2 separate regions of the Homo sapiens genome follow, and region 1 is linked to region 2. Evidence: fine-mapped expression QTL. A gene starts in region 2. The other region holds a variant in brackets. All regions are shown on one strand. Distances are between the middles of the regions.

What was found.
Region 1: its variant is fine-mapped to the expression of DYNC1LI1 in whole blood (TOPMed, PIP above 0.99).

Annotation. Positions count from the first base shown.
Region 1 is chr3:32,514,852-32,520,230 of GRCh38, forward strand. No RefSeq gene overlaps it. Among named protein-coding and RNA genes, the nearest start is that of MIR548AY, 11 kb to the left of the region's middle. The variant G/A (reference allele first, on the strand shown) is at 2,420.
Region 2 is chr3:32,568,884-32,574,239 of GRCh38, forward strand. DYNC1LI1 (dynein cytoplasmic 1 light intermediate chain 1) reads right to left here and starts at 1,975. Exons shown (of 13, transcript NM_016141.4): 1 at 1,742-1,975; 2 at 1,463-1,536. The coding sequence starts at 1,887. RefSeq lists an enhancer at 1,183-1,968 and silencers at 1,243-1,732, 1,913-2,172.

The DNA of each region.
Region 1 (5,379 bases), 54 kb before region 2:
GGGTTTATTAAAGTTTAACCTATTATAATGAAATATTCACTCATTTTTCCTATAATTTTATAAAATGATAATGATCACAGGATAAGTCTTATACATTCAGCAGGAATTGGCTGGCATCATTTTCTACAATCTTATTTCAGCATGGGGAACATCTATTTAGTAAAAACATTAGTAACTGTTACATGAAGGAAGAACTCCCATATTCTGGGATTCTGCCAGTTTAGACAGCTAGTAATTTCTGTCTAAATGAAAGCCCCCAAGTGAGAAAACTATAGTGGATATTACCATTTGGTTCATTATTCAGTTCCATGAGGGGATTTATAAAGTGACATTTGATCATTCTACAGAAACAAATTTGACAGGTACTACAGCAATCTTACATGAACTCTTTACAAAGAACACAAACAGAATTGTTTTATGAAGTCAACATAATATTGATAAAAAACACTGACAAAAACATTAGGGGAAATGAAAATTACAGGTTAGGCTTTCTCAGGAGCATAATGCAAAATTCTAAAAAAAGTTAGCAAATCAAAATCAGGAATACAATACAACTAATATATTAAGATCAGCATAGGGGTTTTTCCAGGAATACAAAGGTGGCGTAATTTTTTTTTTTTTTTTTTTTGAGGCGGAGTCTCACTCTGTTGCCCAGGCTGGAGTGCAGTGGCACCATCTCAGCTCACTGCAACCTCCACCTCCCAGGTTCACGTGATTCCCCTGCCTCAGCCTTCTGAGTAGCTGGGACTACAGGCATCCGCCACCATGCCCGGCTAATTTTTGTATTTATAGTAGAGATGGGGTTTCACCGTGTTGGCCAGGATGGTCTCGATCTCCTGACCTCGTGATCTGCCTGTCTCGATCTCCCAAAGTGCTGGGATTACAGGCGTGAGCCACTGCGCCTGGCTGGCTTAATATTTTAAAAGGTAATGTAGGCCGGGAGCGGTGGCTCACGCCTGTAATCCCAGCACTTTGGGAGGCCGAGGCAGGCGGATCACGAGGTCAGAAGATCGAGACCATCCTGGCTAACACGGTAAAACCCGGTCTTTACTAAAAATACAAAAAATTAGCCGGGCATGGGGGGGGGTGCCTGTGGTCCCAGCTGCCGGGAGGCTGAGGCAGGAGAATGGTGTGAACCCGGGAGGCGGAGCTTGCAGTGAGCCGAGATAGCAACACTGCCCTCCAGTCTGGGGGACAGAGGGAGACTCCATCTCAAAAAAAAAAAAAAAAAAAAAAAAAGGTAAGGTACTCATACCATTAATAGAAAAAAAGAAAATAATCTCTATAGATGAAGACAGCATTTGATAAAATTAAACACCCATTCATGATAAAACTCATAGCATAAACTGACTAGAAAAAAAGCACTTCCAGGTGGGGCGCAGTGGCTCACGCCTGTAATCCCAGCACTTTGGGAAGCTGAAGTGGGCGGATCACCTGAGGTCGGGAGTTGGAGACCAGCCTGACCAACATGGAAAAACCTCATCTCTACTAAAAATACAAAATTGGCCCGGTGTGGTGGCACATGCCTGTAGTCCCAGCTACTCGGGAGGCCGAGGCAGGAGAATTGCTTGAACCCGGAAGGCGGAGGTTGCAGTGAGCCGAGATTGCGCCACTGCACTCCAGCCTGGGCAACAAGAGTGAAACTCCGTCTCAGACAAATAACAACAGAAAAAGAGCACTTCCTTTTTTTTTTTTTTTTTTTTTTTTTTTTTTGCCAGGACCTGTTCTCATCTGAGAGTACTTCCTTTTTTGATAGAGTCTCTACAGAAAGCACGCAGCAAATATACTTAATGGTGAAATATTGAAAGTTTTTACTCTGGGATGGGGAACAATTAAAGATGTTTCCTCTCACCAGTTCTATAATAATCTGTATTGAAGTATAGGTGTAATAAACAAGAAGACATTACAAAGGAAGAGATAAAAGTCATTATTTGCAGATTACATAACTACAGGTAGAAAAATCCAAAATAAATTACAGGCGAACCATTACATTAATAAATGAAGAGGTGGCCCGGTGTGGTGGCTCACGCCTGTAATCCCAGCACTTTGTTTGTTTGTTTGTTTTTGGAGACGGAGTCTCACTCTGTTGCCCAGGCTGGAGTGCAGTGCCGTGATCTCTCAGCTCACTGCAACTTCCTCCTCCTGGGTTCAAGCGATTCTCCTGCCTCAGCTTCCTGAGTAGCTAATCCCAGCACTTTGGGAGGCTGAGGCGAGTGGATCACTTGAGGTCAGGAGTTCAAGACCAGCCGGACCAACATGGCAAAACCCGGTCTCTACTAAAAATACAAAAATTAGCCACGCATGATGGCGGACACCTGTAATCCCAGCTACTCGAGAGGTTGAGGTGGGAGAATCACTTGAACCAGGGAAGTGGAGGTTGCAGTGAGCTGAGATTGCACCATTGCACTCCAGCCTGGGC[G/A]ACACAGGGAGACTCCATCTCAAAAAAATAAAAATAAAATAAAATAAATGGAGGTAAAGTTGCTGGATGAAATCAACATGAAAACTGTATTTATATATATGAGCAACAAAGTAAAATGAAATCTTAGGCCGTGTGTGGTGGCTCACGCCTGTAATCCCAGCACTTTGGGAGGCCGAGGAGTGTGGATCACCTGAGGTCAGTAGTTCGAGACCAGCCTGGCCAACCTGGTGAAACCCGTCTCTACTAAAAATACAAAAATTAGCCAGGCGTGGTGGCAGGCACCTGTAATCCCAGCTACTCGGGTGGCTGAGGCAGGAGAATTGCTTGAACCCAGGAGGCAGAGGTTGCAGTGAGCCGAGATTGCATCATTGCACTCCAGGCTGGGTGACAAGAGAGCCAAACTCCGTCTCAAAAAAAAAAAAAAAAAGAAATCTTAGAAGGATCTTATTTTATAATACCATCAAAACCAAATACTCTCCCAAAAAGCAACGAAAAGGAGACACAAGAGTACACACTGAAAACTACAAACATTGCTAAGAGAAACTGAAAAAAAACCTATATATAATAAATGGAAGACTATTCTGTGCATAGTTTGGCGATGTTGTAAAGATAACAGTTATCAGCAGGGCGCAGTGGCTCACGCCTGTAATCCCAGCACTTTGGGAGGCTGAGGTGGGCAGATCACGAGGTCAGGAGTTTGAGACCAGCCTGGCCAACATGGTGAAACCCCGTCTCTACTAAAAATACAAAAATTAGCTGGGCGTGGTGGCGGGCACCTGTAATCCCAGCTACTAGGGTGGCTGAGACAGGAGAATTGCTTGAATCCAGGAGGTGGAGGTTGCAATGAGCCGAGATCGCACCATTGTACTCCGGCCTGGGCGACAGGGCGAGACTCTGTCTCAAAAAAAAAAAAAAACAAAAACGAAGTAACATTTATCCCCAAATTGTTATCCTCAATGCAATCCCAATAAAAATGCCAGAATTTCTGTGGCAATTGACTAATTGGTTCAAAAGCCCAGAAATAGATGTTTGCATAAATAAACAGTCAAATTGTGACCAAGATAGCACTGCAGAATGGTAAAGAAAGGATGGTTTTTTTGGTTTTTTTTTTTCTAACAGTGGCATTGGATTAAATGAACATTTGCATTTTAAGAATGAATGTTGTCCCCTATTTCACACTATGCATAGAAATCAATTCCAAGTGGATTGTAGAAATGTGAAACAATAAAGCTCATAGAAAAATGAAATCATAGAATATCTTTATGACTTTGGGGCTAGCAAAGGCCTTTTTTTTTTTTTGAGACAGGATCTTGCTCTGTTGTCCTGGCTGCACTGCAGTGGCGTGAACATGGCTCACTGCAACCTCTACTTCCTGGGCTCAAGTGATCCTCCTTGTAGCCTCCAGAGTAGCTGGGACTACAGGCTCATGCCACCATGCCCAGTTAATTTTTAAATTTTTGGTAGAGATGAGGTCTCACTGTATTGCCCAGGCTGGTCTCAAACTCCTTGGCTCAAGTTGGCTCAAGTGATCTTCCCACCTTGGCCTCCCAAAGTGCTGGGACTATGGTGTAAGCCACCATGCCCAGCTGGCAAAGACTTCTTAAAAACAGGTTATGAAAGCAATAACCATAAAGAAAAGCTGATAAATTGAGCTATATTGAAATCAGTAGCTTGTATTCATCAAAAGACACCAATAAGAGTGAAAAGGGAAACCACAGAGTAGAAAAAGATATTTGCAATACATACCTGACTGGAAGCAGTATTCTGAATATGTAAAGAATGAGACAAGGCTGGGTGTGGTGGCTCACGCCTGTAATTCCAACCCTTTGGGAGGCTGAAGTGGGCAGATCACCTGAGGTCAGGAGTTCGAGACCAGCATGGCCAACATGGCGAAACCTCATTTCTACTAATAATACAAAAATTAGCCAGGTGTGGTGGTGCATGCCTGGAATCCCAGCTACTCAGGAGGTTGAGGCACAAAAATCGCTTGAATCTGGGAAGTGGAGGTTGTAGTAAGCCGAGATCACACCACTGCACTCCAGCCTGGGCAACAGAGTGAGACTCTGTAAAAAAGAAAGAAAGAAAGAAAAAGAGAGAGAGAGAGGGAGGGAGGGAGGGAGGAAGGAAGGAAGGAAGGAAGGAAGGAAGGAAGGAAGGAAGGAAGGAAGGAAGGAAGGACGGAAAAAGAATGAGACGATAAGAAAAAGTCAGGCCAGGCACAGTGGCTCACACCTGTAATCCCAGCACTTTGGGAGGCCGAGGCAGGTGGATCATCTGAGGTCAGGAGTTCAAGACCAGCCTGACCAACATGGAGAAACCCCATCTCTACTAAAAATACAAAATAGCCTGGCATGGTGGTTCATGCCTGTAATCCCAGCTACTTGGGAGGCTGAAGCAGGAGAATCGCTTGAACCCAGGAGGCAGAGGTTGTGGTGAGCCGAAATCACGCCATTGCACTCCAGCCTGGGCAACAAGAGCGAAACTCCGTCTTAAAAAAATAAATAAATAAGAAAAAGTCATACAGTCGCCCCCTCCGCCTCCAAAAAGGACAAGACTCTTAAACAAGTACTTTACAAAAGAGGATATCCAAAGGCCAGTACACATGAAATATGCTTAACTTCATTAGTTATCAAGGAAACACAATTTAAACCACAAGATCCTACCATACATCTGCAGAATGTCTAAAACTGCAGACAGTCAATAGTTTGTGTAGACAAGGATGTGGAGCAACTGCAACTCTCATGTTGCTGGTAAGTCATGGAAATTCTTTTTTAAAAAATTATATATAATTCACATAAAATTCACTTTTTTTTTTTTTTGAGATGGAGTCTCACTCTGTTGCCCAAGCTGGAGTGCAGTGGCATGATCTCAGCTCACTGCAACCTCCGCCTCCCGGGTTCAAGCGATTCTCCTGCTTCAGCCTCCCGAGTAGCTGGGACTACAGGTGCGTGCCACCACAC
Region 2 (5,356 bases):
ATTAGTAAACTAAAAATATATTATACAATTTTTTTTTGCTTTTGGATCCTAATTTATTTTTGCCCTATGAATATCACTTATGTAGGCACTAATTCAATTTTTTAAAAAGTTCTGATCACAAATATTTTCTAATGCAGTTTAAGATAAATCCATGACAAAGTATCACTTGCAAATATTACCACGATACAAACATTAACTCATTTGATTCCCGCCACAACCCTAGAGGCAAGTATTATTATTTCTATAACAACCATTTTAAAGATGAAGAAACTGAGGTTTATAGATGTCAAGCAACTTGCTTAAGATCCTAGGGCTTATATGTGATAGGGCAGTGACTCAATCCAGGCTAATCTTCAGTAGGTGCTTTCAACCACATTAAAAACAAGGGTAAAAACTAATTTTTCAACTAGCTCCATGTAGCTTTAAAGAATATCAATAATCATATATTCTTGCTTGGCAGCAGTCTATTAAAAAAGTAATTTTTTCTATGTAAACATTCATATTTAACCACGCAGCCTATCAAGTAGTATTTGACTTCTTGTTTCCTGTTTTTAGATGGATATAACCAAAACAACAACAACAACAACAAAAAACTCTGGTATTGAGCCGACACCAAATACCAAAGTTTTTAAATTTAATCATCGTATAAGCCAAACTTCAGTTATCTCGCATGTAAAGAGCTATATAGAGAAATTTCTCCTATAAATGATTCAGGAGCTAAGCCTAGAAAAATGCGAATCTGCGAACTATTCTCCCTCAGTCCTCTATCCCCACCCCCAGAGTCACTAAAGAAACAGAATACACAACTTCCAGAGAGCCGAGGAGATACAGAACAATCAGGAGAACTGACACTGGACCGTTTCTCCTTATTACATCCATTTGGCTGAAAAGACTTAACTAGAAAGTTGTGTTCTACTGCCCTTTACAAATTTCAGAATTATATGTGACAGTTAAGGTAGCTGCAACACGAGCACATTGTACCAGAGAACGCTGAATCAAGAACATTTATCGCCAGGTCTTAGTTCTAGCTTCTGTCAATTATACAAAGAGTCAGCTATTAAATATTAATGGCATGCCATTTGCGCTGCAGCTCTCGCAAAGAGCCTCCTGCTACCAATTTTTGTGATGAAAGAAAACCTGTCATTTTCTAGATAAACCCCAGGCCACGAGAATCCCTCAGATGAGCGATCGAATTCTGTCCTTCCCAGGGGAAGCTGTCAGGGCCACCCCCATATACCGGGGAGGAGGAGGAGGAACCTGAGGGAGGGCGGGTCCCCGCAGGTCCTGGGTCAAGGGTCTCGTGTTCCCCTTCTCTCCCAGCCATCCGCGACAGGTCGGGAGGCGAGGCGGGGCGGGGCTGGGCCGGCTGTCCGCACAAAGAGAGCCAGCGAGCTAGCCCGCGGACCAGGTACCCCGGGCCGCTGGGGGCCGGGCGGGGCGGGGCGAGGCAGGGAACACTTACCCAGCAGTAGCACGTTCTTCCCCGCAGGGAGCTTGGAGCGCGAGCGGGTGGAGACCTCGCTGAGGATGCAGGACCTAACGGGAAGCAAGGCGTACGGTGAGGCCGGAGGCCGGAGCCGCAGCGCGGGAGGGACGGACCCGGCCTCGGCGCGCCGGGGATGGGGCTGCCGGGAACGCAGTGGCCGGGCCCGGCGCCGAGCTCCAGCGGGCACGGGATCCCGAGGCGTCCGCGCAAGGCCGGGGGAGCCAGCGGGGGCTGAGGGAGAGGTGGAGTCGTTACCAAAGGTTCTGCCCGTCCTCGTCGTCGCCTGCCGCGGCGCCACCGTTGCCCGACGCTATCTCGTTGCCCAAGGGGCCGCCAGTGTAAGTCGAGGATAATCCCGGCGGAGAAGAACCGAAGGAGCCGACTCGCCCCACGGCCGCCATCTTGGTCGGGAATCACACCACTCCCGGCAAGACTAAATGTGCGAGGCGGCTGAGGCGGTGGCGGTGGAGGCGGCGGGAACCCGGATATGGGGCGTTCAGCGCACGGGAGCGGGGCGGGGCCTGCGGGGGCGGGGCCCCGGGCCGGGCCAGGACTGATGGAGCGAGCGAGAACGGACTGCGCGTGCGTGGCTGCCTGGCCGGCGCTGAGGGGCTGAGCGTACGCGGGCGGCGGGGTGGGCCGCTATGCTGCAACTGAAGCCCAGTGATCTGACAGTATGGAAGTGCTTTCCTTCCGCTCATCCGCGGCCCTGGGCTGCGGCAGGGGGGTTGGGTGTGTCAGGTGAAAAGTGCTCCCTCCCACCCTTCAGACAGGTCCCCAAACCCTGCGGCCTGCGCGGAATTCCTGCATTGTCATTGCCGGCCCACCCACTGTTCAGGCTGAGAGCGGTCCCCCGCCCAAACCGGCGCTTCGCCGGCGCCAAGATAGAAATGGGTCGCCCGGCTGGTAAAGAGGCTGCCCTGCAACCCTGGGCTGGAGTATTGCTGTGGTCCTGGATTTCTGGACTTTATTTGCGTTCTCAAGTGGCGAAGTGTTCCTCAACCTGGACCCACATCAGAAGCAGGTTCTCCGAGCCCCTAAGCAGCGGCGTGACAAAGTAATTGTTTACCCTGGAAATAGACTGTTATTTTTTAAAAATTATTGTCAGGGCTTGCTTTAATGTTCTTAATGTTTTTGTATGAGATCCTCCATGTGAGATTTGAAAAGATCCACTATGCGGGTCATCTAACCGGTCACTAGACATTGATTCCACACTTACTACGTCGAGCACAGTTGACACTGGGAATACATGGATGGACTTATACTAGCCCTAAAATAACTCCTTTTCTATTAGAACTTTACTAGGTAAAGGTATTTGAATGTCTGAACTCCATGTTTAGAAGGAGTCATTGGTTTTAAGGCTCTGTCCTAGTACACCTGTAAGAGCATTTGCTTAAAATTGCCTGGCCTTTGTATGTTATCTCTGTCACTTCATATTTGAAAATCACTTGCTAGAATATGGCCTGATCAATGCTGTTATGCTAGTGAGAAAATCCACAACTAAAGACTATTTGCTATATATTAGCATTACGGTTAGAAGTCTGGAAGCCTTTGGAGGCTGGCAAATCTGAGTTCAGGTCTAGCTCTTCGAGTTTACTGGCTGTGTAACCTTAGGCAATTTACTTAACCTCCGTGAGTCTCAGTTTCCTTATCTGTCAAATGAGGATAAAAGAACTTAGAGTTGTTATTGAGATTAAACGGGATGATTCATGTAAAATGGCTTAGAATAACGACTGGCAAATCTTAAGCGCTTACCACATGTTAATTGTTATCAATGACTTTCTTTACCTTTCACACCATTAATATCTGACCAACCTCTAGAAGTGATGGGCCTAAAGAACTCTTGGAGCTAAAATTCTTTGTCACCTGTAATGCCAGCGCTTTGGGAGGCCAAGGCAGGCAGATTGCTTAAGCCCAGGAGTTCTTGACCAGCCTGGGCAACATGGCGAAACCCCGGCTCTACAAAAAATTAGCCAAGCGTGGTGGTGTGTGCCTATAGTCCCAGCTATTTAGGAGGCTGAGGTGGGAGGATCACCTGAGTCCAGGAGGTCGAGGCTGCAGTGAACTGTGATCATGCCACTGCAATCCAGCCTGGATGACAGAGCAAGACCCTGTCACTAAATAAATAAATAAATAAATAAAATAAAACTTTTGATTTTGTTGTTTATATACTTAAGAAAGGAACCAGAACCCTCCCCAGTAGTCCTACACTTTCTGTGGCACAAAGCAGGATGGAGACCCCCAGGAGAAGCTGAGTCTTTATGTTACTGTTCTAAAGGAGAGCTGTATACTGCTCTTGGCCCCTCTGAAAGCCATTTTACTCTGTACTTTATTCTTTCAGTCATCTTCCTCAGAGCATTTTCCCCTCAATTTTGTTGTCAGTTCCATATCATATTTGCTTAGTCTGAGAAGTGTTTACTTTTATAATAGTGTCAGGCTTCAACACCTCATGACTTCCAGATGCTCAACTACCCACCTAAATTGAGGTCAAAGTTGTATTCCTTGTGGTTTTATAATATCCCTATCCAGCATTCTTCCATTAAGGTGGCTGACAAAAGTGGTCATTTATGAATGCCTACTATGTGCCAGGCACTCTGTGTGTTGTATTTGCAATCCTCATACTTTGTAAGGGTCAGCAAAATTAAGTAACCTACCCCAGGTCACACAGATCAGAAGTTTATAGATAAGCTGAGATTTTTTACTGTCTAGTCTGTAAAATGACCTAGGCCAAACCATGTTAAAATAAATGTCCTCGTAATTTTAGATGCTATTCTGGTAAATACCTTCTGTGAAAACCTCTACATTACAAAAATAGGGAAGCTATATATTATGAGGAAGTCTATAAAAGGAAATAATTCATCAGTCCCTTGGAATTTTTGTTGCATAAATGCTGTTTTATAATTGACCTGTTTTCTATACTATGATTGCTTTTTCTTTATTGCCCAATGTTTTCTTACATCTAAAATTAATAACCATCTTGTTTTTCTTTTTTCTTTTTTTTTTTTTTTTTTTTGAGACGGAGTCTTGCTCCATCGCCTAGGCTGGAGTGCATTGGTGCGATCTCGGCTCACTGCAACCTCCGCCTTCTGGGTTCAAGCAATTCTCCTGTCTCAGCCTCCCGAGTAGCTGGGACTACAGGTGCCTGCCAACACACCTGGCTAATTTTTGTATTTTTAGTAGAAACGGCGTTTCACCTTGTTGGTCAGCCTAGTCTCAAACTCCTGACCTCAGGTGATCCACCCGCCTTGGCCTCCCAAAGTGCTGGGATTACAGGCGTGAGCCACTGCGCCCGGCCAACCATCTTCTTTTTCATTTGCTTAGATTTCCATGTCTTTAATTCAGTTTCAAATTCCCGTCCCAGCTGTGTAAAACTCCTTGTTAGGTATTTTAACAATTTTACCTTCTTAAAGACACCTTTAAGAACCTTCTAGCCTGCTCCATTCTGAGTTGGTTATTCTGAAACTGAATACACAGCTGTCATCCTGTGATCTTTCACCATTGTTCAGAAGATTCCCTTTGCCTCAATCTTGTGTCTTCTTGTTTTAGTGGAGAACTTCCCCCAATAGTTTTCTGATAAAAAGGCTCACTGGTAAGTCTTTGGACACCAGTGTATCCAGTCAAGGTCAACCAGAGGAAAAATGGCATTCTTAAGGGGGTGCTAGAGGAAAGCTTAATAAAGGGACTGTTTACAAAGGTGTGAACAGTGTGAAGAGATAGGACTAGCAACAGCAGGAAGCCTTAGGCTTGAAAGGGATAGAGGAAGGAATGTTTACTAGAATCCAGAGAGAGATGCAGCTTATAGGAAAGTGTTGCCCACCAAGATTTATAGTCTTCAGTAAAGGAACACAGTATCCATCCCTTTCTTTCTGC